Regions from separate parts of the Homo sapiens genome. Here all the other regions are linked to region 6. Evidence: fine-mapped expression QTL. A gene starts in region 6. Each other region holds a variant in brackets. All regions are shown on one strand. Distances are between the middles of the regions.

What was found. PIP is the estimated chance that this variant, and not a neighbour inherited with it, causes the effect.
Region 1: its variant is fine-mapped to the expression of CBLL1-AS1 in whole blood (TOPMed, PIP 0.98).
Region 2: its variant is fine-mapped to the expression of CBLL1-AS1 in whole blood (INTERVAL, PIP 0.98).
Region 3: its variant is fine-mapped to the expression of CBLL1-AS1 in aorta (GTEx, PIP above 0.99).
Region 4: its variant is fine-mapped to the expression of CBLL1-AS1 in tibial artery (GTEx, PIP 0.92).
Region 5: its variant is fine-mapped to the expression of CBLL1-AS1 in whole blood (INTERVAL, PIP above 0.99).

Annotation. Positions count from the first base shown.
Region 1 is chr7:107,767,089-107,772,155 of GRCh38, forward strand. SLC26A3 (solute carrier family 26 member 3) reads right to left here. Exons shown (of 21, transcript NM_000111.3): 18 at 4,966-5,020; 19 at 678-820; 20 at 491-556. Among named protein-coding and RNA genes, the nearest start is that of CBLL1-AS1, 25 kb to the left of the region's middle. The variant G/A (reference allele first, on the strand shown) is at 2,539.
Region 2 is chr7:107,275,657-107,280,732 of GRCh38, forward strand. The region is part of intron 14 of COG5 (component of oligomeric golgi complex 5); the gene reads right to left. Among named protein-coding and RNA genes, the nearest start is that of HBP1, 110 kb to the left of the region's middle. The variant T/C (reference allele first, on the strand shown) is at 2,981.
Region 3 is chr7:107,717,079-107,722,154 of GRCh38, forward strand. SLC26A4 (solute carrier family 26 member 4) reads left to right here. Exons shown (of 21, transcript NM_000441.2): 21 at 1-731. Among named protein-coding and RNA genes, the nearest start is that of CBLL1, 25 kb to the right of the region's middle. The variant G/A (reference allele first, on the strand shown) is at 2,954.
Region 4 is chr7:107,688,731-107,693,806 of GRCh38, forward strand. SLC26A4 (solute carrier family 26 member 4) reads left to right here. Exons shown (of 21, transcript NM_000441.2): 9 at 323-470; 10 at 1,394-1,507. Among named protein-coding and RNA genes, the nearest start is that of SLC26A4-AS1, 29 kb to the left of the region's middle. The variant C/T (reference allele first, on the strand shown) is at 2,437.
Region 5 is chr7:108,148,420-108,153,495 of GRCh38, forward strand. It overlaps NRCAM (neuronal cell adhesion molecule), which reads right to left. Exons shown (of 33, transcript NM_001037132.4): 33 at 1-1,728. The coding sequence ends at 1,491. Among named protein-coding and RNA genes, the nearest start is that of LAMB4, 21 kb to the left of the region's middle. The variant G/T (reference allele first, on the strand shown) is at 2,033.
Region 6 is chr7:107,741,683-107,746,758 of GRCh38, forward strand. CBLL1-AS1 (CBLL1 antisense RNA 1) reads right to left here and starts at 2,899. Exons shown (of 2, transcript NR_144537.1): 1 at 2,691-2,899; 2 at 1,071-1,721. It overlaps CBLL1 (Cbl proto-oncogene like 1), which reads left to right and starts at 2,460. Exons shown (of 6, transcript NM_024814.4): 1 at 2,460-2,494. The coding sequence starts at 2,482. RefSeq lists enhancers at 1,049-1,568, 1,569-2,087, 2,185-2,404, 2,755-2,934 and a silencer at 1,945-2,144.

The sequences.
Region 1 (5,067 bases), 25 kb after region 6:
TTAAATGCTGAATTGGCAACTCACTCTAGTAAGGAAGGATAGAAACTTGTTTCATTGCTTGACTGGGCACTGTGCTAGGGACTTCTCAAGCATCTGGCTATTGGGAGGTGTGTATTAGCTTATCATTTTCATTGCTAATTCACCTGTAAATGGAAAGAGCAATACCTTCCCTGCTACGTGGATTATTACAGGGCCAGAATAAGAGCATTGTTGTAAGTGGTTTGAAAAACAAAAGAAGATATGCTCAATATTGCATTAATGGAGATCTATTATCACTATTTTTTCATCCTGTTTTTGTACGGGTCTGAGTTTCTTTTCCTGAAAACTCCCTGTGAGATTGGTTAGCATTGCTTCAGTTTTCTAGGGATGAGGCACAGAGGCTCAAGCAAGTGCTGGACTTTCTGCCACATGCAGGAAGTGGCCTCACTACTTTGAAGGTTTTTTTTTGCTGTGATGTCTAGGTGAAGATAAACCTGTTGAAGAATCTTACCTCATATACCCGATTACGTAATCCTCCATTTGTATTTATGGTAAAATCAATTTTTCCATCTTTTTCCTGAGAAAAAGAGAATGGAAATATGGATTAGGGGCTGATTTTTTTTAATGTTGAAAAAGAGAAATTTAAGGAGTGCAGATGGCTGCTTATGCAATTGTGAAAGTCACCAAAGAGCTGATACCTGACTGGGATTAAACTTTGAAGTACTGTAATCTTTCTTCATCAAAATATGCAAAACAGCATCATGGATTGTTAAGAAAAATATTGAGCTTTTCACTTCACCATCAAAAAATTCATACCGGTTAAGCTTCTCAATGAAGTCATCTGAAGAGAAAAAAACAGTAACTTTTAGGAAGAAACAATTGTTTGGCTACCGGTTTCCCCTTGAGGCTAGTAATTTCACCTTCCATTTGCAAATGTGCGTTTCATTGACATTTGGTTAAGTGTGTGTGGGTTGCAGTGGTATAATACCAGTCTATCTTTAGTACAATGTCTTTTGGAACTAACAAATACCTTTCTAATAAAAAAAATTTAATGCCCTAATGTAAAAAGGAGGAAGGCAAAGGAGCAAATGAAAAACAGTAGTTCCTAGAAGAAAATTCATTTAGGCAGGAGCCTAGTGAATTGATCTCCCTGCTTAATGATTAGAGTATCAAGTGTGGCTTCTTATTAAAGTTTGGGATTCTGCCAAAATGGAACATATGTTTATGGACCAGTGATATGCTGTGGTTCTTTATTGTAGCCCATTTTCCCAAAGCTGCTGGGTTTTATGGGAAAACATCTTCCTTACCACTTACCTCTCTAATCATCTTTGAGAAATCCCATTTTTGTAGGCACTAAGCAGCATTCATTTACATAGATGACTCAACCAACTATTACCTTATGTCTGCCATGTGCAAAACTCTGGCTGAGTAATAAGAAAGATCAAAAGATAAATTAGACCTGAATCTTGCCCTCAAGGAAGATAGAACATTTATATATTCCTGTAGTACTGACAGAAAACGTGTGGTATAATAATGAGGGAAAGGAGCAATCTAGTTTTTTTCCTTTATTGTTTTCTTAGTTTTAAAAAAATTCCCAGCACATAGTATGTCTTCATATTTTTTGTTGAATATATGAGAGAGATATAGATCATGTACTATGAAAATTCTGAGAAATTTTCCTCTTGGTGGGTATCTGGGAAAACTTGAGCAGATACCGTCTAAACGTGCCTAGGATTTGCAGAAAAGTGGAGGAAGAGAAGGTACACAGTTATGAAGATGGATTCTTCTGTTTACAGAAAGCTTTCAGTGACAGAGGGAGAGGGAGCGTGGAGGGCATTGTGGCCACCAGGATCTGGGATGGAGTGGGTGGCATGCAATGGGAAGGAAGGTGATAATCTTTGATAAAGACTGAAAAGAATGCCAGGCAGCAGAGACAGCAGGAACAGATACTTTCCAAAATATCTGGGATGATGAGGAAAGGGTAAAATTGTTAGTAAATTAAAGGTTTCTGGGATCAAGGGGATGTTTTTAATTATAAGGAAGCCTTGACAATGGTTGAACTAATTTTCACTCCCACCAACAGTGTATAAGCACAGTGTGGCGATTCCTCACAGGGCTGAAGACAAAAATACCATTTGACCCAGCAATTCCATTACTGGATATATACCCAAAGGAATATAAATCATTCTTTTATAAAGACGCATGCATGCATACATTGATTGCTGCACTATTCACAATAGCAAAGACATGGACTCAAATGCCCATCAGTGATAGACTGGATAAAGAAAATGTGGTACATATACACCGTGGAATACTATATAAAAACATATAAAAAAATTAAAAAAAAACAATATCCTTTGCAGGTACATGGAGTTGGAGGCCATTATCCTTAGCAAAGTAATGCAGGAACAGAAAACCAAATACTGCATATTCTCACTTATAAGTGGGAGCTAAATGATGAGAACGTATGGACACATGGAGGGGAACAACCCACACTGGGGCCTATCGGAGGGTGAAGGGTGGGAGGAAGGAAAGGATCAGGAAAAGTAACTAATGGGT[G/A]CTAGGCTTAATATCTGGGTGACAAAATAATCTATACAATAAACCCCCATGACACGAGTTTACCTATGTAACAAACCTGCATGTGTACCCCTGAACTTAAAAGTTTTTTTTAAAAGTCTTGAAACTAGAATATGTCTGTATATTTTAGGGACAGGATCCAGTAGAAAGGGAGAGATTAAGGATGCCAATTTTATACTTTTCGAAGGATATGTGTACCACTTGTCTCCTCTCCCTAAAAAGCTCCCCCTAAGTACTGTCAAGGTTGACTGCCTCACTTCGTTCTAGTCTGTACTCAAAATGTCATATTGCTGGACATCCCTGATCACCAGTTTTTCTTTCTGCCTCCCTCCCTCCCTTCCTTCCTTCCTTTTTTCTCTTTCTTTCTTTCTTTCTTTCTTTCTTTCTTTCTTTCTTTCTTTCTTTCTCTTTTCTTTCTTTTTCTTTCTCTCTTTTTTCTTTCTTTCTTTCTTATTTCGTCTTTCTTCTTTCTTCTTTCTCTTTCTTTCTTTCTCTCTTTCTTTTCTTTCTTTTTTTTTTTTTTTTTTTTTTTTTTTTAAAAAAAAAAAGGGGTTTTTTTTTTTTTTTTTTTTTTTTTTTTTTTTTTTTTTTTTTTTTTTTTTTTTTTTTTTTTTTTTTTTTTTTTGATTTGAGACAGGGTCTTGCTCTGTCACCCAGGCTAGTGTGCAGTGGCACGATCACAGCTTACCGCAGCCTTGACCTCCCAGGCTCAAGCGATCCTTCCATCTCAACCTCCTGAGTAGCTGGGACTACAGGCACATGCCACCACACCCAGCTAACATTTTTTTTTTTTTTTAGAGACGAGGTTTCACCATGTTGCCCAGGCTAGTCTCAAACGCTGGGGCTTAAGTGATCTGCCTGCCTCAGCTTTCTGGAGTGCTAAGATTACAGGCATGAGCCACCGCTCCCAGCCTCTGTTTCTTAACTCTGCTTTTCTCTTAGCACTTATCACTACCTGAAATATGCTTTTGTTTGTTTATTATGTGGCTTTTCTATGAGACTATAAGCTTCATGAGGACAGAGGCTTGTCAGATTCACTGCTATATTCCCAGCACCCAGAACTGTGCCTGATAAATAGTAGGTATTCAATAAGTCTTTACTGAATGCCCATCATGTCCTAGGATCTAGGGAAGAGACAGGAAGAAGGTAAGCAGGAACAATACCTGCCCTGGAAGAGATATAGTCTAGTAGGGACAGAAACTGAACTGCAAAATTATGTGATACGTGCGTACTCTGTAGATACAAACAGTCTGAAGACCCGGTGCTCTGCCTGGGGAAGCAAGGATGTTTTCAGTTATTGTCGGAAAAATTCCTGAAGAAGGCTTCTTTCAGAAAATGGGATGGGAGAGCATTATAGGGATGGGCAAGGATATTAGTTAGAAAGTCCTTCTAGAAGGCCTAGTTGAGAAGTGAGAAGGGTCTAGATTAAAGTTCTGGAAATGGAGAGGAAGAGACTGATTTAAGAGGAAATATTTATAGGACCTGGTCATTGACTAGAGGGAAGGAGAGCAGAAATTGGTGATGGTTTCAGGGTTTCTATCTGGAAAACTAGGTAAGCAGTGATGCAGTGATTGTGATAGGAAAGAAGTATTTTTGGGAGGGGGAATCATATACGTAGTTCTAAAAGCGTGTATCTGAGGTGCCTGGGGACATCCACAGTCGAGTCCATTGGTCTGCAGCTTAGAAGAAAGGCCTGGGCTGGAGGTATAGTTTGGGGATTCATTAACAAGTAGATGCACATGAAATCATAAACATGTAGGAAATTGACTAGAAAGAGTCTGTGGAATTAGAACTATGGTATAGAGTGTACGGTTGAAGCTTGGGGGAGACTGAAAGTGGGAGAAGAACCAATGTCAGACCCTGAGGAGATGTTTGAGAGGTAGGAGGTGAATAAGAACTGTCCTGCCAGAGTCAGGGAGGGAGAGAGTTTCAAAGACAAATGCTAGAGAGAGTGCCAGATGCTCAGGTAAGCTGCTGCAGAAGGACCTGAGATGAAGGCCGTTAATCCTAACAATCTGGACATCGCTGATAACCTTGGCAAGGATGGTCTCATCAGCAGGTGAAGCTCAACCAAATTGTTATGGGCTGGATTGTGCAAGGGAAGGGAGGAAGAGAGACAGAAAACAAGGCTACCTTTTCAGGAAGTTTAGAGTGAAAAATAGTTAACATGTTCCTCCTTTGTTGCCTATGAAATCAGGATTCAAATTGTAGAATGTATTTAATTACATATCAACATAACTAAAATACAAAGATGCTGTTTCCATAGGGATTTTTATTGGGCTGGCTGCATATTAGATTTTCATCATGATTATATAAAATACTCATTCTTTGGAGAGGCTGTCTAGACTGAGAGTTGGCAGTGAGCCTGAAGTGATTGTCAGAACATAAAACAAAAATAAAGCCACTTACCATCAGTTCCAACGATATACACATCTACCTTGATCCTGATAAATTCTTGCAAAATCTGTTAAAAAGAAAAGTATATCTTCCTTAGGGAACAGTTTCACTTGT
Region 2 (5,076 bases), 470 kb before region 6:
GCGATTCTCCTGGCGCGCCACCACACCTGACTAATTTTTGTACTTTTAGTAGAGATGAGGTTTCACCATTTTGGTCAGGCTGGTCTTGAACTTCTGACCTGAGGTGATCTGCCCACCTCAGCCTCTCAAAGTGCTGGGATTATAGGCATGAGCCACCATACCTGGCCAATACTTTTAGAACTTAAAAAAAAAAAATTGAACTCATATTTGAGCTCATATGTCTCTATACCATTTAAATATCACACATGTATGTTTTTTTCCATCATAGGAATGTCAAGTCTCCAACTTATAAAATTATATAAAGAATAAAGTGTATATTTACAAAGCCTTAAAATAAAACCTTAGTGTCTAGAACTATTGACCTCATACATAGCTACTGATCTGCATTGAAGTTGAGACCTCCCCTTAAATGTCATTCCTATTATTGTTTCAAATGGTCTGCAACCTGATTAAATGCCAATCTCCTTTCTCACAGTTCATAACATTTGCCATTTACACTAAGATTCTAGATGCCATTCCCTGGAACCATCAAATAATGGTTACTGTTGGAAAATACCCTTCAGTTTTTAAAAGGGATACTTATTAATATATTTGCCTCCAAAGTTGATATCAAAAAAGTTTACAAGCCTATAAATTTTAAAGGTGCCACAACAGTTCCCTTATGTACTAATATTTTAGTTTTCTTTTAACACACAGAGGATAAGAAAAACACTAATTCAAACTTTCCATTGTGGCTAGGTACAGTGGCTCACACCTGTAATCCCAGTACTTCAGAAGGCCAAGGCTATGGATCATTTGAGCCCAGGAGTTCGAGACCAGCCTGAGTAATGTGGCGAGACCCTCCATCGCTACAAAAAATAAGAAAATTAGCTAGGCATGCTGGCATGCCCAGAGGCTGAAGCGGGAGGATACCTTGAGCCTGGGAGGCAGAGGTTGCAATGAGCCATGATCATGCCACTGTACTTCAGGCTGGCCAACAGAGTGAGACCATCTCAAAAACAAACAAAAAACCCCAAACTTTCCACTGTAAGGTCTAGTGACCTTTTCTTCTAAAGGTCACATTTCAGACTATACAAACAAATCCCCAATATATCACCATTAAATAATTTGTTCAGTTTAATCATAAAATATTATGATATTACACCTATAGGTATATGTGTATTTGAAACATAAAATTCTTAGTAAATTAATTATAACCTCACAATTGCTGTCAAGACAAACAAGAATTTTTAAATGAAAATCTAAAAAACCTTGATCTCAGTTTTACAAAAGAGCATCTAGAAAGCTGATATTCACATGACCCATACTAAGTTAAACACATATTGCAGGAACTAAAGCCTATTGCTTAGAACTCAGATGTGAAGCATCAATGCTAAATCCCTATTATTTCAAAATTAAACTATGAAATCATCTAACTATACATTAAGAGCACAGAAGTAAAATAAACTATTCTACACATAAATAAAATATATTATGCACGTATTAACATAGTAAATGTAGATCTTGATATATTGTAAAATGAATGAGCAATTCACAAAACAATATGTATAACACAATGCAACTTTTCTTAAATAAAAAAGATGTTATGTTTATATACAAGCTACAGATCAGAAATAAAGTATTAAAGGTTGGTGCAGAGGTGAACATGGGAGAGAATACAGTCGTGGGTTCTTAGTTTCTGTTTCTGGTTAGGCCAGTAAAGCCCCTTACTCATTATACGTTTCTGCTTAGCACTAGAGATAGAAACTAAAAACCATGGCTTCAGGCTGCTAAAAGCCTAAAAAAAACAAGAGAACAACAACAGTGAAAAATAAGGCGAGTTGGACAAGCTTGTTTTACAGTCTGGTCTGGATTTGAATGCTAGTGCCAACACCTGCTCCCAGGCATTCTAATTTTAGTAGTCTATATTACTCATGCTATTAACTGTTCTCAGCTTCAATTTCTACATTTTGTAGTGGTGGACAGTAATACTTTCATTTCATAGGATTGTTGTGAAATAAATGAAATAATATATATAAATGGCTTGGCACAATTCCTGATTCACTATAAAGGTTAATGATGGTAGTTATTTTTGTGGCCCAACCTCACTCTTAAAAATAAATTCTCTGGTATCGCTTTGGATTCAGAAGGACTGAAGGATTTATCCTTACAGAGATTTAGGTTTGTATAACACATACCTTTGGTGATTAGTAACAGAAAAGCCTTAGGGAAAAAAATACGTAATCATAAAAATAATTTCAGATGTATTATTATAAGTATATAACGCACTCTATATGTAATTTAATGTTATAATCTACTATACCCCAGAATATTAAAAATCAGCTTGAAAAAACCTTTTATAAGCCTTTCTCCTGATATGAATAAAATCTATAACTAAGTATACTAAAACGTTTCAGTAGCCAAGAGACTTCTATAACCAATCTTTAGGGAAATACATTTCAGATTATGAAAAGCTGTTCGATGTACATTTCAGGTTGTATTTGCAAGTCACTCTTTCTGAAAACATGCTTATCTTTAAAATTCTAGCTTTCCTTTATCTCACTGCTTGAGCATTCTATTAATGATCTGATTTCCCTTCCTTCCTTCCCTTCCTTCCTTTCTTCCTTCGTTTCTGTTCTTTTCTTTTTTATTATACTTTAAGTTCTGAGATACATGTGCAGAACGTGCAGATTTGTTACATAGGTATACACGTGCCATGGTGGTTTGCTGCACCCATCAACCTCTCATCTACATTAGGTATTTCTCCTAATGCTGTCCCTCCCCTACCTCCCACCCGCCAACAGGCCCCGGTGTGTGATGTTCCCCTCTCTGTGTCCACGTGTTCTCATTGGTCAACTCCCACTTATGGGTGAGAATATGCAGTGTTTGGTTTTCTGTTCCTGTGTTTGTTTGCTGAGAATGATGGTTTTCAGCTTCATCCATGTCCCTGCAAAGGACATGAACTCATCTTTTTTTATGGCTGCAGAAATAACGTCACACA[T/C]CTACAACCATCTGATCTTTCACAAACCTGACAAAAACAAGCAATGGGGAAAGGATTCCCTATATAATAAATGGTGTTGGGAAAACTGGCTAACCATATGCAGAAAACTGAAACTAGACCCCTTCCTTACCCCTTATACAAAAATTAACTCAAGATGGATTAAAGACTTAAATGTAAGACCTAAAACCATAAAAACCCTAGAAGAAAACCTAGGCAATACCATTCAGGACACAGGCATGGGCAAAGACTTCATGACTAAAACACCAAAAGCAATGGCAACAAAAGCCAAAATTGACAAATGGGATCTAATTAAACTAAAGAGCTTCTGCATAGCCAAAGAAACTATCATCGGAGTGCACAGGCAACCTACAGAATGGGAGAAAAGTTTTGCAATCTATCCATCTGACAAAGGGATAATATCCAGAACCTACAAAGAACTTAAACAAATTTACAAGAGAAAAACAAACAACCCCATCAAAAAGTGGGCAAAGGGTCTGAACAGACACTTCTCAAAAGAAGACATATATGTGGCCAACAAACATATGAAAAAAAGCTAATCATCACTGGTCATTAGAGAAATGCAGATCAAAACCACAATGAGATACCATCTCATGCCAGTCAGAATGGCGATCATTAAAAAGTCAGGAAACAACAGATTCTGTCATTTCTTAATCTTGTGGACTGGAAGCTTAAATTTTTCATCTTTGAAAAGAATCTCCTACTCATTGATTTAGTTTTCATACCAAATCTCAAGTCAATACTTCCATTTATAGGCAGAGTAGTTATCCAATTCAAAAATCTGTTTCAAGTCTTTCTTCCACTAAAGACTTACAATTTGGCTATTTTCCTCTAAATGTTTTCAGTCAAATTATTCTAAAAAAATAGGAATATTTGTAAAGATTAAAGAACAAAACAGGTATAATTTTAGCACATTGAGGGGTAGAAGAGTGTTATTAAATGCCAAGAAACAAACATTAACAGCAAGTTGTTACTTAAGACATTAGTCAATAATATATTTTTAAAAATAAGGCATATGATGTTTTTTATAATCTTATTTAATGCTTAAGCTTCCCTTATACACTAAAATGAAAGTTGAAAAATAAAACTATTTTTAATAAAAAAAGATATAATCCAATTAAAAACCAAAAAATGACAATGATTTTCTGTTAGCCTTCAACACTGCAGGTACATTAGATAGGCCTAAGTAATTTACAGCCACTGACAATTTGATCAACAGTATCAACTCAGTGAAATGTTTGCAGATATTTTGATTTCGTCTAAGCCTTTTGCCATTACTATGTTAACTGAAGTACATATTACCATTACCACTGTCCCTCCCTACTCTCAATGCAAGGTATTTTCTATATACATGCTGGATCTTTCTTACAGTGTTATCTTCAGATCTTAGCATTGTCAGTAATTACACTATACTCTACTAGATATAACACTGAATTTTATTTATAGCAATAACCATGTTTTTGAAGCAGTGAACATTATAAAAAAGATTTAAACAAAGATTGAGAGAAAAATTAGTAATCTAAATTCATAGTAATTTCCTACAAAGAGCTTCTATATCTCTGTATGGTTAGTTTTCAATAAAGTTCTTAAAAAGATGCTTCTAAGATGATTTTGTCAAGACTACAAGATCAATTGAATGAAAATAGTACCATATTTGCAAACAAAATCTGGCCATCCATGGGAACTAAAAGAAGGAAGCCTCGTAACATGACTGTTACCTCCAAGGATCATTTTATGTAAATCCTTCAGTATGTCACCAACTTACCCTAAAAATTATCACAGAACAAACTGAAACAACTTGGATATAGATAAAAGTAGATTATTTTGTTTATTATGGTATTTCAACCGGGAATGGTTAGAGAGGATAAACTGAAAACGTAGTTAGCTAACATTCTAAAGATAGTGGAGACAATCAGATTTTGACACACTGTCTAAAATTAGTATATCAATAATGGTAAAAAAAAAATATTGAAGTCTCATTTTGTTTGGATTTCAATTAGCATACATATATACTAGTGAAATATGTGTGCTTAACTTTCAAACATTAATGTATAGAATTAAGATTATGATTCAATTAT
Region 3 (5,076 bases), 25 kb before region 6:
CAGGCGCGGTGGCTCATGCCTGTAATCCCAGCACTTTGGGAGGCCGAGGCGGGTGGATCACGAGGTCAGGAGATCGAGACCATCCTGGCTAACATGGTAAAACCCCGTCTCTACTAAAAATAGAAAAAAAGAAATTAGCCTAGCGTGGTGGCTGGCGGGCGCCTGTAGTCCCAGCTATTTGGGAGGCTAAGGCAGGAGAATGGCGTGAACCCGGGAGGCGGAGCTTGCAGTGAGCCGAGGTCGTGCCACTGCACTCCAGCCTGGGCGACAGAGCAAGACTCCGTCTCAAAAAAAAAAAAAAAAAAAAAAAAAGAGTGAATGTAATAGTCTTGCAGAAAATGAATGAATACCTTTGTTCAATAAAGGAAATATGCACTGCTCACTTTTTTGAAGGAAATGCCAAAGTTACGTTTTACAACAAGGCTAGAGTTTGTAAATTCTGGGTTCATTTGTGATGACATAAGTCAGCAAACTGCGGGAATACTGTCTCTTCTATGTATTTTGTGAATAGTAAGCATAATTTTAGTTTTGTATTATCAATGAAAATTTCACTTGAAATTAAAGCTGCCTTTTGTTATATTTTTAACCTATAGGATAAGATTCCAGTATTGTATATGAGTTTTAACAAATTAAAAAATCAAATCATGTACATTTGAAAATATTTGCACACATTTAAAAATAAATGTAAAGTTGTCTTTTAAACTACTCGGATGTGTCCTTTCTGAACAAAACTATTAAATATAATAAAGAATGTGCCAGGAGCAGTGGTGCATGCCCTTGTAGTCTCAGCTACTTGGAAGCCTGAGGTGGAAGGGTCCCTTGAGCCCAGGAGTTAGAGTCTCAGCCTGGGCAACACAGCAAGACCCTGTTTCTATAAATAAATAAATAAAATATAATAAAAATACTTCATTCTAAGTTTGTCATTGCTCTTATCAGTCATCATTATGAGGCATTCTTTATAGCACCACTTCTGTTTATAATTCCTTTGTGTAGATTTATCAGTGCAATAAACAACATTACTCACAAATATCACAGTTAAACCTTGTGATTCTTATCCAAATATTTCCAGTTTATTTTGTGCAATGGTTATTATTATTTTAAGCAAACTTTTCATTCTGGCACAACATATGTAAAAAAGGATACAAATCACAGTGTACTGCTTGAAGAATTTTCACAAAACAAGCACACAAGGGTGGCCTGTGCCCAGATCAAGCAGCAGAATGCCACCGGCACCACATAAACTCTTCATGCTCCCTCTTAGTTGGTTGCCCCAAAGGGCAATTACTGTCCTGACTTTTAAAATCTGTTTTTTTTGAATTGCATAGAAATGGAATCAAAGATTATTTCTTTTTTCCCCCTTTCTTTTGTGTCTGTCCTCTTTCACTCAACATTATAATCAAGAGATTCATCCATCTTATTCAATATAGCAATCATTCATTCATTCTCCCTGCTGTATAGTATTCATTCCATTGTAGAATTTACCACCACTTATGTATTCATCCTACAGTTTGTGGATATTTGTGTCGTTTCCAGTTTTGGGCTCTCATGAATAGTGCTACTATGAACATTCTTGTGAGGCATCCTTGCACATTCCAGAAATATTTGGTGGGGTGGGGTTCCTCTATCTGGGGCTTAGATCTGTGAGGTGAGAATCAATGAAATTAGGGTTATTTTCCATTTGCATCAGGTTAGGTATCTGAAGAAAGTTTGGTTTCAGTTAGAGTAGCATTTATCATGCAAACAATTTAACAGTGTAACAAAAACCACACAAACTTTAGTTAAATCACATGAAGTTCAGTTCTGTAAGAAAGTCACATAATGACAAATACCTAGAAAAAGAGTGGAAGAGAGAAAAAGTAGAAACAATGAGGGGAGAAGGAAAGGAAGTTCAGAGGGGAAAGTAAGGGAGAAAAAGGTAAGAGAACCACAGAGAAAAAGAATGACAATTAGGGAAGGAAGAGAAATAAGAAAGGGAAAATTAACGGAAGAAAGAAAAGACGAAGGTAAAATAAAAGGTGGAAGGAAGAGAAAGACTAAGAAGAAGAAAGGAATGGTGGCGTAGAGAATTTCATAATGGGAAAATAAAATCCAAATAGAGGATTGATTTCAATATAATCATATCCTTCGAGAACTCAGAGAAGTGAGCAACACTCCCTCCCCCACATGCCACACCATCTCCTGAATTCTTGGTCCCCCTTACCCAGCTCTTTTCATTAATATCAGCTTCTAGTATGCTGTGTAATTCACTTATTACTGTTTCTCTTCCTGCCGCCTCGCTTATACTAGAACATAAGCTTCACCAAGGCAGGGTTCTTTATTTTGTTCCTGGACATATACCAAGTATTCAGAAGAGTAAAGAGTGTCAGACACACGGTAGAGGTGCAATAAATACTCTCAGATGAATGCATTAAGCTAAAGTCAGTGATGCTGAGTAAGGTTAACATAATTTGAGAATGGCAGTCATTAAGTACATAAGACATTCAGAGTTTCCTGAGCTTGCAGGCCTATTCCAAAGACTTACTGTGACAGCTCACCTGCTTGCCTGTCTGCCTTACCTATTGGTCTCCAGAAAATGGCCTGGGAATTCACTTGTATGTTAGCAGAGCTTCAGGGAATTAAAGGCCCTTTAATGTCTATATCCATTTTGAATATGCCAACCAAGTCAGCCCACTTCATCCTTTTCTTCAGGAACATTTTTGGGCGTGAACATTGAGGTGCTGTTTTTGCATAAGGTCTTCTAGTTTCAAGGTGATTCCCAAAGCATTGTTTTAGATCAAGTGCTCCAATACTCTGAGTCCCCTTCCAGCTCCTTTAAAACTTTTTATTTTGAAATAATTATAAATTCACAGGAATTTGCAAAGAAATATATGGCAAGATTCCCATGCACCCCTCACCCAGGCTCCCACAATGTTAACATCTTGCCTAGCTACAGTACAATTTAAAAAAACAACAC[G/A]AAATTGGCATTGGTATAAACCATAGACCTTATTCACATTTCACCAGTTATACATGGACGTGTGTGTGTGTGTGTGTGTGTGTGTGTGTGTGTTGGGGCACTCTATGCAATTTTATCCCATGTATAGCTTTGTGTAAACACCATCACAATCAAGAAGTTTAACTATGCCATCAGCACAAGACTCCTTCTGGGGACCCTTTTAAAAATGCACTCCAAGTGCAGATATACCTCTTCTTCTGACACCATTCCCAGACTTATGGCTGAACAAAGACATTCTGAATTAGAGGAATAGCTCTGATATTAGACTTCCTACAATCAGGGTAAGTTGAACACTGAATATTCTGTTGTAGAATTCATTTGCAATGACTTCTGGTGAGCCTCCAATGAGGACATACTCTTTCTCTGCAATTTCATTTTTGCCCACAGCCACCTCAGCCATGGAGGAGCTCTAGGTGATACTGGGGAGCATGTAAAGGTCACCTTTTAGATGTTAAAGAATTTTACAAGTCCTTGGCCAGCCAGTACTGCAAGCTGGGAGAGACTCTTCACAAGAAAGATCAGGTATGATTCTTGTCAAGGCATTTGCAAACTAGTGGCACTGCCTAACACTTGAGGACGGTTCTTATTTCCGCATGTTGACCAAAGTAGTGAAGCCTACTCTCTCCAGTTGCATTCACTTCCTAGCTCATCGATTTGTAGTAAACCAGCACAGCAGGATCATTTAACCCATTCCTTTAAGCCTATGCCATATACAAAAGAAGGAGGTCTGGACATCTTTCTATTCCCTGACCTGGAAGTATTTGGTTGAGTAAGAGAGGGCCAGACCTTTAGAACACACACATGAGCCCATGACCTGTCTCCAGTAAGTTCCCAGTTAAGTGAGTAAGGGAAGAAGGTGGTAAGAAATGAGGCTGGAAGATGACCTGGGGCCAGCTAACGAGAAGCCTTATATACTACATAAAGGAGCCTAGGTTTTATCCTCCAGTGTGGTAAGAGATAAAGACAAATGGCTGGGTTACATTACCTCGCTAATCCAATCAGGTGATCTAGGTATCTAGAAATAAATTCAGAAGGTGAAATTAAAGTGGAGATGAATGAGGCTTTTGTTTTTTGTTTCCAAAGGGAGTAAGAGATGAAAGCAGACATACTAGCTTTTGTGATTTAGAAATAAAAGGCTTGTTCCATGGATGTGATTTTTATTTTCATAGCCTATCCTTTAAAGATAATTTTAGTATTCTATTATTTATAATTACATGAAGCACTACTTTTATGGTAGAAAAAGAAATATGTGCTATTTAAAAACATATAGGTAGAAATAGATATTGATTTGAGATTGTGGAGTTAACATTTCCTTATAAACATGTTACTGTTTCTATGTGAGAGTCATTGTTTCTTCTGATTTTACTTGCTTGTAATAAAGAAACTTTTGGTCCCTAAAACAAAGCAAGGAGTGATTGCTCAATATTTCTGTTTAAACCCGTTATTAAATGTTTACAACAAAATACAAGCTGTGGCAAATGAGCATTCTGTGCTTACTGCCATCTTCTCCCAAAGAATTAAAGGGCTTGAAAGTGTGGGAGTGATGCTCTGCTCTTCTTTCTCCCCAGCCCTTCTTCTGCATAATAAGTGGCTGGCCTAACCAGAGGCAGAGCCAGCCACATGGTGTAAGGAGGCATGGGATAAAAACTTACACTCAGGGGAGAAACAATATGCAGGCCAAATTTGCCTGCTTAAATAGTTGAGGCTAGTTTCTCTTTTTAGTTTCATCTTCCTCTGCCCATCTGCATTCCTACCCCAAAGTATTAGATTTTTCCATTAGTTCCTCATTCATTCATTCATCAAATGTTTAATGTGCACCTACTTTGTAATAGACACAGAACTAGGGGCTGGGTATCCAGGGAATGGTTAAAAAAAAAAAAGACAGTTGCTATTCTCACGGAACTTATAGTCTAACGTGGGAGATGATCAGTAAAGAAGTAAACATACCAATAAATATATAATGACTACTTACATAGCCATAGCCATTATAAGGAGGTAGAGACTGAAGGCGACAAATGGAGGGCAATAATAGAGAATGATAAGAATAGCACACTCTCTAAAGAGGTAACATTTAAGGAAGGAAT
Region 4 (5,076 bases), 53 kb before region 6:
ACATGTGAAATGGCATGGATGGGGCTGTATGATATTAAAGAATCAGTAACAGCAGATTTATTCATGTGAGAGATAGAGAAGAGTCAGCATGGCTAGGCTCAAAAATAGAGGACAAAGAAATCAGCCAGTAAGATAACACCAACTTCTGATTAAACATTATAAAAGCTGCTACTATCATGTATGTATTTCGTGTGCTTTTTGTTCTTTTGGATCAAGTACTTTCATGTCTAATATGTGACTGAGCAGATATAGCATTTGATGAGATGGGGAAAAAGGATGGTGGTCAAATCTTCACAGCATTTTTCACTTAAAAACTCACTAGGTTTTTGCCTCCTGAACTTCCACCTGTGAGCTTGTTCTCGGAGATGCTGGCTGCATCATTTTCCATCGCTGTGGTGGCTTATGCTATTGCAGTGTCAGTAGGAAAAGTATATGCCACCAAGTATGATTACACCATCGATGGGAACCAGGTATGGGTGCCCTTTTGCTGAACTGGTTTTATAGGGCTGGAAACAGGAAAAAAACATAAATGGAAAAGATTTTGGTGTCAGCTAAAGAAGGGGTTGGATTCTTTCACCAGACCTTATTGGGTTGGTTTTCCTCTTGTGTTTGCTAATTAGAAATTATTTTGGAATAGACACACTGCATCACTTTGCTTTTTTAAGAAATAAGTTGAAATAACACTAATTTTAAAAGAGCTAATTCAGTCAGGTCATAAATAACATTCAAAGTGAACATATTAGGTCAGAAAGAGAATTCTTCATGTAACCCAGTACCTCTTGGCAATTATTTTTAACGGCAGTTATAATGTGACAAAACAGTGCAACAAACATTAATAATAGTTGTGACCACTTTAAATTGAGGTGGTTCACTGTGCAGTTAATATATACAGGCAATTTTTGTAGGCATGTGATACATTGCCAGGTAAGCTGATTTCACACTGCTTGCAAATTTGCAAGTTCTGTATCTATATGTTTCTGAAAATACAGTATAGCAATAACAGTAGTTAAATGGTTAGTAATCAAGCAGAATAACAGCACTGCTAGTCATAATATGCTTCATAGTGAATATTCAACCACAGAAAAACACTTTATGTGAGAGCTGCAGACATTCCATTCACTAGGCAGTGAAAAAGCTTAGCAAATGATCAGGTGCTATTTCTTGTCAACTTTAAAAATTATCGAGAGCAATGAGACCTCTCTCAGATGGTATGGCGTCCAAACTCCTGATGTCGTACAAGGACCCCAAGTACCTATCACGGTAAAAATTAAATTGGACCACCACGCAGAGTAGGCATGGGAGTTTTCATTCTTAATGTACTTCCTGAAATACTCAGCGAAGGTCTTGCAAAGATTCAATTTGTAGGATCGTTGTCATCCAGTCTCTTCCTTAGGAATTCATTGCCTTTGGGATCAGCAACATCTTCTCAGGATTCTTCTCTTGTTTTGTGGCCACCACTGCTCTTTCCCGCACGGCCGTCCAGGAGAGCACTGGAGGAAAGACACAGGTAGGAACAACAGCCTTATGATATCCATCTCAGAGAACAAGTCGAGGAATGGCAACAGAGGAAGGCTCGCACCGAGCTTAGCAGGACAATTTGCCTTTCAGACTTGTACTTCCTAATCTGATTCACCTCAGGCCTATTCCTCTTGTTCCACTCCCTCACCTGAAATCTCTTAAAAAACAACATGTATGGTTTTCTGATACAGTGATTCTCAAATCTATTTGTCAGTGCTTACCTGTCATGTAGCTACACTTACCTGCTGTGGTCAATAACAACTGACAAGGAATCAGTAATGAAGGATGCTGATTTTTGTTAATTTGTTACCTGGGGAGACAGATGGCCTGGTAAAAGCGCTTCCTGGCTTTAGGAGCTATTCTATTTTCAGGAAAGTGAAAAGCTCTATTCACATTTCCTTTAGAAGGATCAGGAACTTCCTCCAGGGGCGTTTGGTCCCACAGAACAACAGTTTGCTAGCCAAGAATATTTTTGTTGTAACATTTTTGGCATTTCTTCCTGAGTAAGATTTATGTTGTTGAAGTTCTGCATGTGGGTTTAATCTTATCTTTTAAATGTGGTTTGCAGTTGTTGCCTTTACAAGGTGGCCAAAAAGCCAGCATCCTAGTTAATCTCTGGATAATCCCTCCTTCAGTGTTCAGAAAGCTCAGGAGCCATACTCAAAGGCCACTCTTTCCAGCAGGACACAGTCGAAGAGACCACACCAAGCAGATGGGCACAAGAGACAGACTCAGGAATTTTGCTTCTGTCTCTTATGCCTTGAGGTCCTTATCTTCCCAACACAGAAAGAACTATTATTTAGGAGTAAGAAGTGCATTGAGACTCCAAAGAACAACAAACCCAAACTACATAGTGCAATACACACACACACACACACACACACACACACACACATGCACACACACATGCACAGTCTT[C/T]ACAGTCTTCAAATGGGTTTTACTAAGGCGGGGACACTTAAAAAATAAATATAAGTCGGGCACAGTGGCTCATGCTTGTAATCCCAGCACTTTGGGAGGCTGAGGTGGGCGGATCAATTGAGGTCAGGAGTTCGAGACTAACATGGCCAACATGGTGAAACCCCTTCTCTACTAAAAATGCAAAAATTAGCCAGGTGTGGTGGTAGATGCCTGTAATCCCAGCTACTTGGGAGGCTGAGGCAGGAGAATCACTTGAACCTGGGAGGTGGAGGTTGCAGTGAGCCAATATCGTGCCACTACATTCCAGCCTGGGCGACAAGAGCTAGACTCTGTGTCAAATATATATATACACACACACACACACACACACACACACACAAACATATATATATATATATATTCTCATATATATATACGAGAATAACTGAAAAAACTAATGACTCCAACAGTGACTTGCCCAGGGAGGGCTTTAATTGTCCCCAATATGCATGTGATGCTCCTTTCCTATTTATAATGGATCTTGTGACAGACTTGGAAGAATTGGCCTCTTCCAGTTTTTTGGCTGCTTTTCAACAAAAAATTTTATTTTCAGAATTTTTCTTAATTTTTTATTTTTTTTGCAAATATTTCCAGCTCTGAGGGAGCAGGTAAAATAATACAGCTCATATCCGGAGGCATAGCCAGAGATCTGTGGTCAAGGGGAAGAGGTCAGAGCCAATTTCCAAAGCTGTGCACATTTCAGGCTGCAGCTGTCAGCAGCAGGAACTTCTGCTGCTTTCATTTGAGACGGAGCACTGACAAGCTCTCCAGAGCACATGGTCTTCAGCGGGTGCAGGCAAATCTCAAACTGCTGATGTCCATTCTCCTGATGTTACCTCCAGGCTCAAATGAGGCATGGGCTGGCTGTCCCAGTAAGTATGCCCATGTAAAGTGACCTCCTTGGCACAGGGTTTGGGGGATAATGGTGCTCTGGTAAGCTAATACCCCCTGCCACATACTGGCATGTATTATATTTAGGAATGAAGGATGCCAGGATTTCAGCATTAAAGAATGAAACGAGTAAAGAAATGGCTTCATGTTTAATTATTGAAATGTATACTAAATTCTGGGGTTAAAAGTCTAAGTGCCTGAACTGAAATCCAGGGACTGATGGACAAATAAACTGGCAGGGCTTCTCTTGTGTGGCTTCTCGTGTTTTCTCTTATGTTGGAACTTCAGTTTCAGCATCTACAAAATGGAAATGATAATTGCATCCATTTCACAGGGATATTGTGAGGATTAGGCAAGAAAATGTAAAGCCTTAGCACATACTTGTAAATGCTCATTGTTTCACTCCTTTAGGCAAGAATAGCATCTTAGCATCTATGATACATATATTGTGCCTGGCACATAAGAAGCACCTGGCATATATTTGCTGAATGAATGAATGGAAGAATGAGTATTGGTGGACACGAACTGTTTTTAGCACATCTACAGATTGTAGAAGAATTAAACATTGGAACCTTTTCTTTCCCTCACCCCCATCTGACTTCCACTGACTCACAGAAAAGTAATTCTGATTACAAACCACTCTTTAGCTCTGATTACCCCCTCCCTTAACAGAATAATTTTTTAGTAACTGAATCTGGTTGTAGATATAAAGTCTACAGAGTTTCTCACAAACAAGCCTTATCAAGTAAGTAGAAATAATTGATCACTCACCAATTTTAATATAGTGGCCAAAATGAGCCTTGGCCTCCCATAATTGGAGACTCATTATGACATATAATTGGCAAGTAGGTGGCCACTCTCCTGGCATGAGTTTGGCAGCTGACTGTGGTCCTTGTCCCCAAATCTCCATATCTTTCTCCAGTTCACAGAGCTCCCCATCCACAGTGAGATGCAAGTGGCTCGGTAAATACTGGTTGAGTAATTGCATGCAAGGAAGGAAGGGAGGGATAAGGGAAGGAAAGAAAGAAGAAAATGGAAGGAAGGACAAGGGAGAGGAAGGGAAGGGATATGAAGGAAAGCGAAGAGAAGGGAGGGAAGTAGGATATCAGCTTCTCTGCTTAGTCAGGAGAAGGGAAAGAGCACCAGGGTACTGGGAATCTAGGATGGGGATAGGAAGAGCATAGAAAAGCCAGCCAGACATACAAAGCACGCTTTTTAGTACCTCATACACATCATATTGCCTCAGGCTGACCCAACTATAATCTAAATATAAATGATCAATTTGCCAGGTAGAGCAAGTGCTTTCTAATTTTCTGTTTATATTTGCTGTGTCTGTCTCCCGTAACTCAGACCTTTTGCACTAGACAGTACTTGTGCTCAACAAAATCTTCCCAGTTGTTTCCTCTCTGATTGCTTTGCTTGTAGTTCCCTGTCTCCTTTTCTTCTTTGTTTCAGAGCTTCTAATCTTCATCTTGGCTCTGCCCCAGCTGTCTCAACAGAGAATTCATTGGTCATCTAATCAAACGAGAGAGTAGTCCCCACCCCCTCAGCCTCTCTCCTAACTAGTATGGATCTTAGGAGAGCTATTTTTGCCAGCGAAGGTAAAGTTTCTGAAGCTTCCTTTTACCCCTGCTATTGCCCCGTTACTCCATAGTCACTGTTTCAGGCTGCCTTGGGGCAAAGCTCTGAGCCTGCCTCCGTGGAACTGTC
Region 5 (5,076 bases), 410 kb after region 6:
TGATGCAAGTTATGAGAAACCAATTTATTGGCAAATGAAACTGAGCATTCCTTCAACCATAGGTTGTTATAGATTTTCATATTTGGAGGTAACCCATTTGATAGATATTGTTTATGAATACGATAGAATATATATTTACTTTTTAAACTGCAGATGTAATCCCTTGGACCGTTGGCCTTTTAAGCACTTGCCTGATTTCTTAGATTCTGAAATGTATCCATAACAATTTGCATACACGTTGTTTAATGCTGCAGAGTTTTGAACACTTACATAGGTAAAGTCTTGGAGAATAATATATTACTGTTGGCATGCTGTTGTATGCTTTTAGTGTTGGAATAACTTAGTTTTAAAATTAATTTTCTAGCATGTTGACATCTTTCTTACTGAATGTAATAGAAACCATAAAGGACCACAAAATCATCATGTGCTTCAGTTGGCAACAAAGATTTTCTTTTTATGCTTATGAGGAAATGCTATTTCTAATAAACTGTCTTATTTTTATTTTCATGTTTCCTTCTTTTCCCAGCATTGCAGTTTTCATGAACTCTGCTTTTTAAAAGTTACTTTTAGACAATGACAGTAATCTAGGACCCAGAATGGACTGGACCAGCTGATACAGAATGCACGATGTTGTGGAATGCTTAATATCTGAAGGCACTGTATGTGTCTTGCCCTGTGTTCTCTGAAATAATGTTTGAAATTTAATTTGGATGATTTGTTTTTGATTCTTTCAGTATGGCACAAATGCCGAAATGCACTGCAATACACATTGTTTATGCCTAAAAACAACCGAACATAGAAATGATGTAAAAAGTAGAACACTGTGCTGCTGTAATGCCTGGAAGATTAAGAAGCCTACGGAGTAACAGGAGCCAAGAGTAGGTAATAGTTCTCAGTAAGCATCAGCAATGTGACTGTCATAATGAACTCATTTAGCAAGTATATACTGTACAAACTGTTCCTAACAGTCTCCCAAAAAGACTAACGACAGCTATACATAGTCACCAATTTCACAACAATGTCCACAAAGACATTGAAGTTCTAGAGAATACTACAGTAACATTCTTGACAATGAAAACGGAATTCATATATAGGGGTTCAGCTGAGGGTAGTATAAACAAAGTATCAAACCATGTTTTCATAACATACACGGGTATGTCCTTTAAATGTGGAGCATTTTTCATGCATCATATTGAACTGTATCCTGCAGAGGAAATAACAGGATCTGTTGGTGATGTTGCATTATTTTTTATCAGTTCTGAGGAAATCAAGAATACCCATTTTGAATGAAAAAGTATGCACTTTGCATTCCAGTTCATATTAACATATCATTTGACTGAGTTATGTTTTTGCTGTAACTATTCTCATAATACTAACATACAGCAGAAAATATACTCTCTACCCATATGTTCATAGTATGAGAGGGCTGACAAACAAGTGCTTAGGATAAACATTCTAGAGAAATGGAATATTGGCAAAGAGCTTAAAAATTAAACAAAGGAATTCATGGCGTTGACAGGAGAAGGTGCCTCTGAGCTTTCGTTTCCTTCAGCCGGCTCTTTCTCTTTCTTACCACTGTATTGTCCAATAAAGGAGCCATCCTCATTGAACTGGCCATTAACCCCTTCTCCATAGTCAACTAGGCTGTCGTCACTATCTTCTTTTTTCACAGTCCTGTCTGAAGGAGTTCGACTTCCTTTTTTCAAAGGCTTGTGGTCTTCTGCATCACTGGAAGAAAGAGAAAACATTTTTGTCAAGATTGGCATTTAGGTAACATTTTCTGTTTTTAAAGACCATGCATGCAAATTATGAGAAAGCATTTGGAGTCCTGGGCTTCTCTGGCCAAATCTAATTTTCAGGTTGACTCCAATGACGAGGATGAGTTGGAATGGAAATCAGGAGCAGAAATGGTTGAATCATGAAGTCTTCAGTAGAGTGGATGGCTCCCAATAGTGTTTGTTAATTTCAATGACAAATTCTGATTCCTGAGTTGAAAGCAATCCAGAAATAATCACAAGCATTAAATAAGAAA[G/T]AATTCAGAAAAGTAGAAAAATCATCACTATTTTGAATTCAAAAAGGCAAAAGCTTATGGCAAGTAAAGAAGTTAGTATGTTAAACTGCATAATATCTCTGATTCCTTGGTTGTGAATGGAGCATGATTTTGGTTAAGTGTGAAATGTGGATTTTTTTTTTCTGAGCCAGAAGGAGAAGCAAAATCCTGCATTTCAAATAATTTTGTTATCAATGCAGGCCAGACTGTAAACTTCAACCTTACCTTTCAAGAGACCTACAAAATTCCATTAAAAGGATGCAGAAGAAACAAATGAAAACAGCCTAAGAAGAAAAGCAAAATCCTTATACTGATAGTACACAGTATTTTTTTGTTTTTTTGGTAAAAATTTTAGTTAATGAGTAAAGATTTATTAATCTGGAAAGAGACGCACTTTAACTTAAAAGCTCTACATTTGTACTATGAATGGCATGCCAATATATTCTAAAGAATGTGAATGACTCCAAACATGTAATAGCAAATGCTTCCTACACTCATGTTAACCCCCCAGCTCCCTTCTTCCTTGTGTGTTATGCAGCCTGACTATACTGGATGGGAATCTGAGGAGTGTACTTTAATACGACTTTACAAGATTCCATTATTACAATTTTTGCTTATTTCTCTGTTGAACCCGTAAGCACAATTTCTGGAAGACAAAGAGTAATCATTATGTTTTTGAATGTTCACCCATACGGTCAAATACCTAGTTATGCATATTGACCTATTTTTTAATAGGTAACATTTGGGAAAAAAATAGAAAAAGGCAATGACAGGATCTAACATTTTGTTTTCTTTCAAAGAACAAAAATGCAAGGCAAAATAGGAAACATATACATTTTTACTAATGTAAAAATGAAAAAGCCTTAACATACAAAAGGTATCACTGGCTGCAGTATTTAATCTAGCAATTTCTGCTAAGACTTTACTGCTCCCTCTGTTTCAGACAGTGACTTTTTTTTTCAAGCCAAGATACAAACATTTCAAGATGCACAAGTATCCTGGCTCTTTTGACAATAACTTTTACTAGGGATTTCAATTTTTCTCCAAGAAGAAAATCTGAAGACTGGGAAATAATGCTAGCATAATATGACACTGGCATATGCCACTGAAAACAACCTGTTTCAGTAATACACAATTTCTTATTGCAAACTGAATAAACTATATTTTCACCACTGCTAATAAACAACTGGAGAGGTATCATCTTGGGGTGGTCTGTGTTTGTGAGCATTTCAGAGGACATAGCATTGAGTGTCTAACCTGTTATGAAAATAGCCTACACAACATCTCTGGGGTTTAATTATTAAATCCTTCTTGTGAAATATAGTTCATGTTTCAGTGTGACAGTTAATTCAGCTGAAGAGTTCAATAACAGGCAGAATTTGTCACCTGGATTCCAATGACTAGTCTTATTCTGCTCTGTAGAACTAGTGTCCCAAGGAATACACTGCTGGAAATTTGTCATCTGTGGCATTTCTTTGGTCTAGCCATCTATCCACCCATGCCTTCATCCAATAAATGTTTATTGAGTGACTACTCTAAGATAGATTGTTCTCGGCACTGGGAATATAGCAGCAAACAAAACAGACTAAAACCCTCACCTCACTGGCTTTATTTCTAGTGGAAGAAAATACAATTAACAATCAACATAATAAAAAAAATTACATATATATTATGTCAGAAGAGGATTAGCACTATGCAAAGTATAGAGCTGAGTAAAGACTGCAGAAGGTGTTGGAGAAGGGATGGAGAGCTGGCATTTAATAAGATGTCCAGGAAGACCTCATCAAGCAGTAATATCTGGTCAACAACTTTAAAAGAGTTGAGTTAGCAAGGTGAATAGTTGGAGGGAGAGCAGTTCCTGCAGGAGTAACAAGCAGTATAAATGTCTCGGGGTGAGGGGAAGCCTGGCAGGTTCTAGGAACACTAAGGAGCTTGGTGTGGCTGGGGGGAGGGAGAGAGAGAGAGAGAAAAGTAGGAGTTAAGTAAGGGGAGTGGCACGGCTAAATCAGGGCTTGTGGAACATTGTAAGGACGCTGCCTTTAACTCTGAGTGAGACAGGAAGCCCTGGGAGGGTTTCAAAGAATAAGTGACATGCTCTGACTTATATTTTAAAAGCACTACTCTGCCATCAGTGTTGAGAATAGCCTACCTTAGAGGGCTGGGGTTGGTAAACTACAGTAAAATTAGGCCACGCCCATTTATCACATAATGTCTATGGCTGCTTTAGCACTACAATAGCAGAATTGCAGAGTTGCAGCAGAGACCGCGCGGCCTGTAAAGTCTAAAATATTTAGTTGGCCAACCTCTGCTCTATAGAGTCAGGGGAGAATATTACAATAATCCAGGAGTGAGATGACTGTGACTTGGACCAGAGTGGAACACTGGAGGTGGTATAAAATGCTCAGATTATGAACATATTTTGAAGGTAGAGCCAACAGGATTTTCTGATAGGTTAGACATGGAATAACAGAGAAAAAGATGGTGCCAGGATTTTTGGTTTGAGCAACAGGAAGCTTGGAAGTACTGTTACTATGGAGTGGAGCATGTTGGGAGGGGAAAATCAATGGTTCCATTTTGAGATATTAAAGTTTGAATATGTCATGAGAACCACTCCTTTAATCATTTTTTGAGGCTAGTATAACATTGATATCCAAAACCAATAAGAATGCTTTAAGAAAGTCAAACTACAGGCTAATCTCATTCATGAACATAGATGAAAAAACCCCAAACAAACCATGACCAAACCAAATTTAGCAATCTATGAAAAAGATAATATTTCATATCCAGGTTGGGTTTATTCCAAGAATGCAGGCTTATTTTAGCATTAAAACATCAATTCATATAATTCATTATTTTAGCAGAAGAAAATAAAAATATGATAATCTCAGTAAATTTAGAAAGAGGTATATGAAAAAACTCAACACCCATTCATGATAAAAACATTAGGAATAGAATGTATTTTTATTCCTAACATTAGGAATAGAATGTATCTTCATTAACCTGATTAAGGGTAGCAACAAGAAACC
Region 6 (5,076 bases):
AGCAATATAAACCTTATGCTCTATAAATAAATATTAATGGCAACTCTTGATAAAGAAATTGTGACTGGTTACAGCACGCTGGTCGCTGAAAAGAGATACTAGAGGGCAGTAATAAAACATAGGTAAAGAAATTAATTTATCACACTGCTACTGCATTGGTAATTCAAGGCAACCACAATTAAGGGGGTAAATACAGACCACAGATGCTAAAGCAATGCCTGAAAGTAAGAGATGTCAAATCAAATCAAACAAATGTTTAACATTTTATCAGATCTAAAGTAAGTACATCTTCTCTCAGTAAATTTTCTTGATGCACCATAAAATGCCAACAAAACTTCTAACTTACAGGTTAAATTATATAAAATACAATTTGAAAGCTCTTTTTAATTCTAATTATTTAAATATTAGCATCAGCAGACATTAATAATACTATTCTGAACCTGGATTTCCATGAATCTGAAGGTTAACCGTTAGCTGATAGGCTAAGTATGATAGAACAAAAAAATCAAAGCCAGTGGTGGTGATGAGCATCTGTAGTCCCAACTACTCCGGAGGCTGAGGCATAAGGACCCCTTGAGCCCGGGAGTCCAAGGATGCAGTGAGCTATGATTCTGCCATTGTGTTCCAGTTTGGGCTGCCCCATCTCTAAAAAAAATTTTTTTAATATGAAAAAGAAGTACTTTCTAAGTGAAAACTTAAAAAAAAAAAAAAAACCCAAATTGGTGAAAAATGCCTGACTATATCAACACTGTATTTAGAAAAATAGGGAGGTATGGGAAAAAGGTTAGGCAAGCCCCAATGCCCAAAACAATAATCCCAGAAACTGAAAGCATCTTGAAAACCACCTAGCAATACAGAACTTTACATTTAAAAAAAGCAGGGGTAATTTTGATTCACAAATGTCCTTAGTTGTGAATGTACCTAAAAACTTGTTTATAAAGCTGCATATATAGAGCAGAAAAATCTTTTACAAGATCTCAGGAAAATAATCACCAAATAACATGGTGCACTTAAATCGCACTGATCATCACAGCATGATTCACAAATAATACCGTACAACTACAAAGATATAACACATCGCTACACATACTTTATTTGCAATTCAGTACCATGAAAACATTTCTCTAAGAGGTCAATGTAATAATCTTTTATTGATATAGGAACTCTGGCACTGAAAGCTTGAATAACCCAAGGTAATGATGTCGTCACCAAGGGAGGACAAGAATAGAACCCAAATCCCTTGACTCCCAAGCTTGTGTTTTCCATTAATTGTGCTCCTTTCTATTCATCCAAGAGCATCAAGTGTAAAAGGCTGGAGAAAGGAGTGGACACAAATGAGCCAAGTCCGCAAGGTGGAGACTGCACTGAAGGTCCTAGGAATCGCCCCTTGGCACTTTCCTTTTGTGTTGGCTGAGGAAGATGAAAGCAGCAACAACCACAAACTCCTGGGACCAAGAACTGGAACTAGGTACTGCTTGTTGTGGTAACTCTCTTCCTCATTTTAGGCCTTTCCTTTTTAACCTCTCCTTCCGGCCAAGCCTTCGCGCTCTCTTCCCCTCCCTCGGTTTCTATCCGCTCCCGTTAGCTCCACTCCGCACATTCCTGCAAGGTGTCCCCGTTAAGAGGAGGCAGCTGCGCCGCACTGGCTCTCCACCCTCCATCCGGCCCTGGCGCCCAGTCGTCAGGTGTTCGAGAGGTTCGTAGCGTCACAAGCGCTCTCCCTAGAAAGTGAGTGGCAGTCAAGCATTATAAACGTGTTTCAACTGTAAAGAGACTTAAGAGATGGGAACCGGGGCATATACCAAGTTAGCTCTGCGTGGGTCTAGGTAGCTCGTCACGACAAAGCAAAATTTAGACAAGCGTTGAGACTTTCCTTCTAGCTCCGAGTTTCACAGCTCCGCCATCCCCTGAGCAACCTCCCACTGGAGGGCGCCTTCCGGAGCGCGCGTGTTTACACTTTTGCTACACCAGGCGGAGGAAACAAGCGCTCGCTGACCCCGGGGGATTCCAAACCGTTACTCCGCCCGCCGGGGTGGGGCCAGCGCAACGGCCGAGCCTGCGCAGCCAGCCGGCTCCGGGGGCCCCGCGCACTACAAGTCCCAGAAGGCAGCTCTCCGCGGGGCGGGCAGTCGCCTTATCTGCTTCTGGCTCATTTTTACCACTGCTCTCCCCTTCCCCGGTCCCCCTGGTGTCCTTTCCACAGTTAAAGGCTACTTTCTCTTGAAGCACATGAGGAGAAGCCTTAGCAACCTCAATACCGAAGTTCTTCGCGCGCTCGCTCTTTCTGCCTCCGCCCGAACTATGCCTGAGTCCCTCACAGGAGTTGGATAGTAGAGGCGAGAGAAGGAAGTCTTTGCAGGCCAAAATTGGGACAACCTGCTTGGACTTCCGCCTCCCGGCCTCCGGAAGGCAGTGCGCACGCGCTCGCTGCGACTCCGGCGCGGTTGACTTCCGCTCCCACTGTGCTCTGCGAGCCGAATCATGGATCACACTGGTAAGGAGGCGGAGGCAGTGGGGGTCCCGGTTCCAAGCCCCCTTGGCCGGCCTGGGGCTGGTCGCACAGCAGGCAAAAGGGATTATGCTCGCCCCACAACACTAGGGTGTGGCAGTGAGAAGAAATCTCACAGATGCCTTCCTGTGCCCGGCAGGGGCCTGCGGTTTCCTGGCCTACCGTCTGGTGTGGTACCTACCTCCTCCGTGCCGGCAACAACCGCTCCTACTCTGGTTCTGCTGAGCTCCGAGCCCGGACCAGTGGGCGATGTAGGCCTTCGGGAAGGGAGAGCCCCGGCTCTGTTTTATTTAGCCCAGCTGCTCTGGCCTACGTTATGGAGACTGGCGGGTAGATTGCGGTCTCCGAGTCGCGGAATCCTCTTTACGCTGGGAGTGGACGGGCGAGAATGGGTTGGAGACTTCCTGCTGTCTCAGTCAGCTTTGGGCGGGTGCTGCAGTGGTCACCCCCTGTCGTCTCTCCGATCCTTTATGGACTAGAGGGGTGAAAGAAGGGAGTCTGATAGAGTTTTTGGAATCAAACTCGGAGCAGTTTTTCTACCTAAACCAAAAGCATGCCCCGCGCTTCGGCTGAGGTCCTTACTCATCATTTGAGGGTATTTACAAAGAGGAGTTTAAAATCAAGGCATTCTCATACTTTTCTCCAAGTAAGAGTGGCTCCACCCTTTGTTATGTATTTTCTGGCTTTTGCTTCTTTGTGGTTCTTGGATATTGAATGAGTGCTCTTGGAGTTATGTGCCCCATACATTTATAGCGACCGTATCACAAATAGAGAAAAAAAGGCTTTTTCTTGAGTATTGAGTTGTCCTCACTCATCAGATATCTACTTGGTTATATAATTAGGTGTGTATGTTTATTTATGTAGGTGTGTATGTTTATTTATGCAAGATACATGCAGATATCTATAGGTCGGGAGATGGAAGATGGAATGGTAAACGAGACGGACCAGGTCCGTGATAGAACTTCTGTTTTATGGAGGAACACAGACAATACGTTCTTTTTTTTTAAATTTATTATTTTTTTAATGTTTGCGGATTATTTTGAAGAAAATAAACGAGTGCTGTGGAGAGATTCATAGGACGAAATTTCAGAGAGGGTTGTTAGGAATGGTCTTTGTGGAAGCTAAGATCTGATGGATGAGAAGAACCCAGCCCTGGGAAAAAAGCAAGAGGAAGAGCATTTCCAGCAAGTGCGAAGGCACTGAGGTAGGAAGATACAGTGAAGTCAGCTGCAGCCTCCTAATAGCCAGAGGGTAGGAGTCCTGAAGTGAGATTGGAAAGGAGGGCAGCAGGCACATCATTCAGGTCATTGAAAGCCGTGGTAAACGTTTGAATTTTAATTTAAGTGAATATGAAGCCATTGAACAGAAGTGGAGGAGGAACACAGTCTCTTAAAAAATACAATAGGCTGTTCTATGAAGAATGGTGTAAGAGAGGGAGGTAAGAATGATGGAAAATAGCTGATTGCAGTAGACGGGAAGGGAAGGTTGGTTTGGTGAAAATGAAGGAGAATGGGCAGCTTCAGTAAATACTCTGGTGGTGTTTGAAGGAATGTGAGAGAAAGGAGAAATGCCTAGGCTTTTGGTTTGAGCAACTAGGTAGGGTCCATTATTGAGCTGAGGAAAACTTGGGGCAGAAAACAATCTTTTTTTGTAGAGGTGAGACGGGAATTTGGGAACAAGTGTTTGGTCTTGGACTGCTAGTGTGAGATAACTACTGAGACACAGGAGAGATGCCAAGTGGAGATGAGAGGAAAGATCTGCACTGAAAATACGTATTTGGAAGTTAGTACCTTTATTTATAGCTGGTATTTTAAAGCATGAGGACAGATGAGACCACTTAAGAAGGGTGTGTTCAGAGGAGAAGCCGGCCTAGAACGAGGCTGTAAAGAATTCCAGTGTTTGGGAATTTATAGAGTTGAAACTGGGATTTTGATGTTAGAATAGCAAACATTCAACTTTAGGAAAGTAATTCTTATTTGAGCCCACTACTGGAATTATGAGTCAAGTTCCTGCCATAGTTTAGAGGCTATTATGTTAGGAAATCATAATAGGGGTGAGTGTAAAGAGTGTTTATTATCTTAATTCTTGAAGTTTAGAGATTGCCTAAGGAAGTAAAACTCATCTTAACATGAAAATACTCACGAATGAGCTGACCACTTAAAAAATTAGTTCCCTCTCAGATGTCCCTTCTGCTTAACACTAGCTTCTTACCTATTTTATTTTTTTTAAATGAATCAATCTCTTTGATGTTTAGTATCAGAAGACAGTATCAAATACTGTGCACTGATTGTGAAATAAAATTATAAACCTTGTAGAAGATTCTGGTTTTCATGAAATTCGTAAACATGAATTTGATAATTGTTTAAATCACAAAGGCTTTGACAAATGAGGAAATGCCACTTAGCTAGATAATTGAAGAATCATGACAGGATAGGCATCTCAAAAGAATAATTGTAATATTAAAGGATTAAGAGGTCCTTGGGGAAACAGATGAAACCCTTGAACATTATGCAAAAATGACCCATTTTATGATCATACCGAAACATTCAAATGTGAAAATGAAGGTG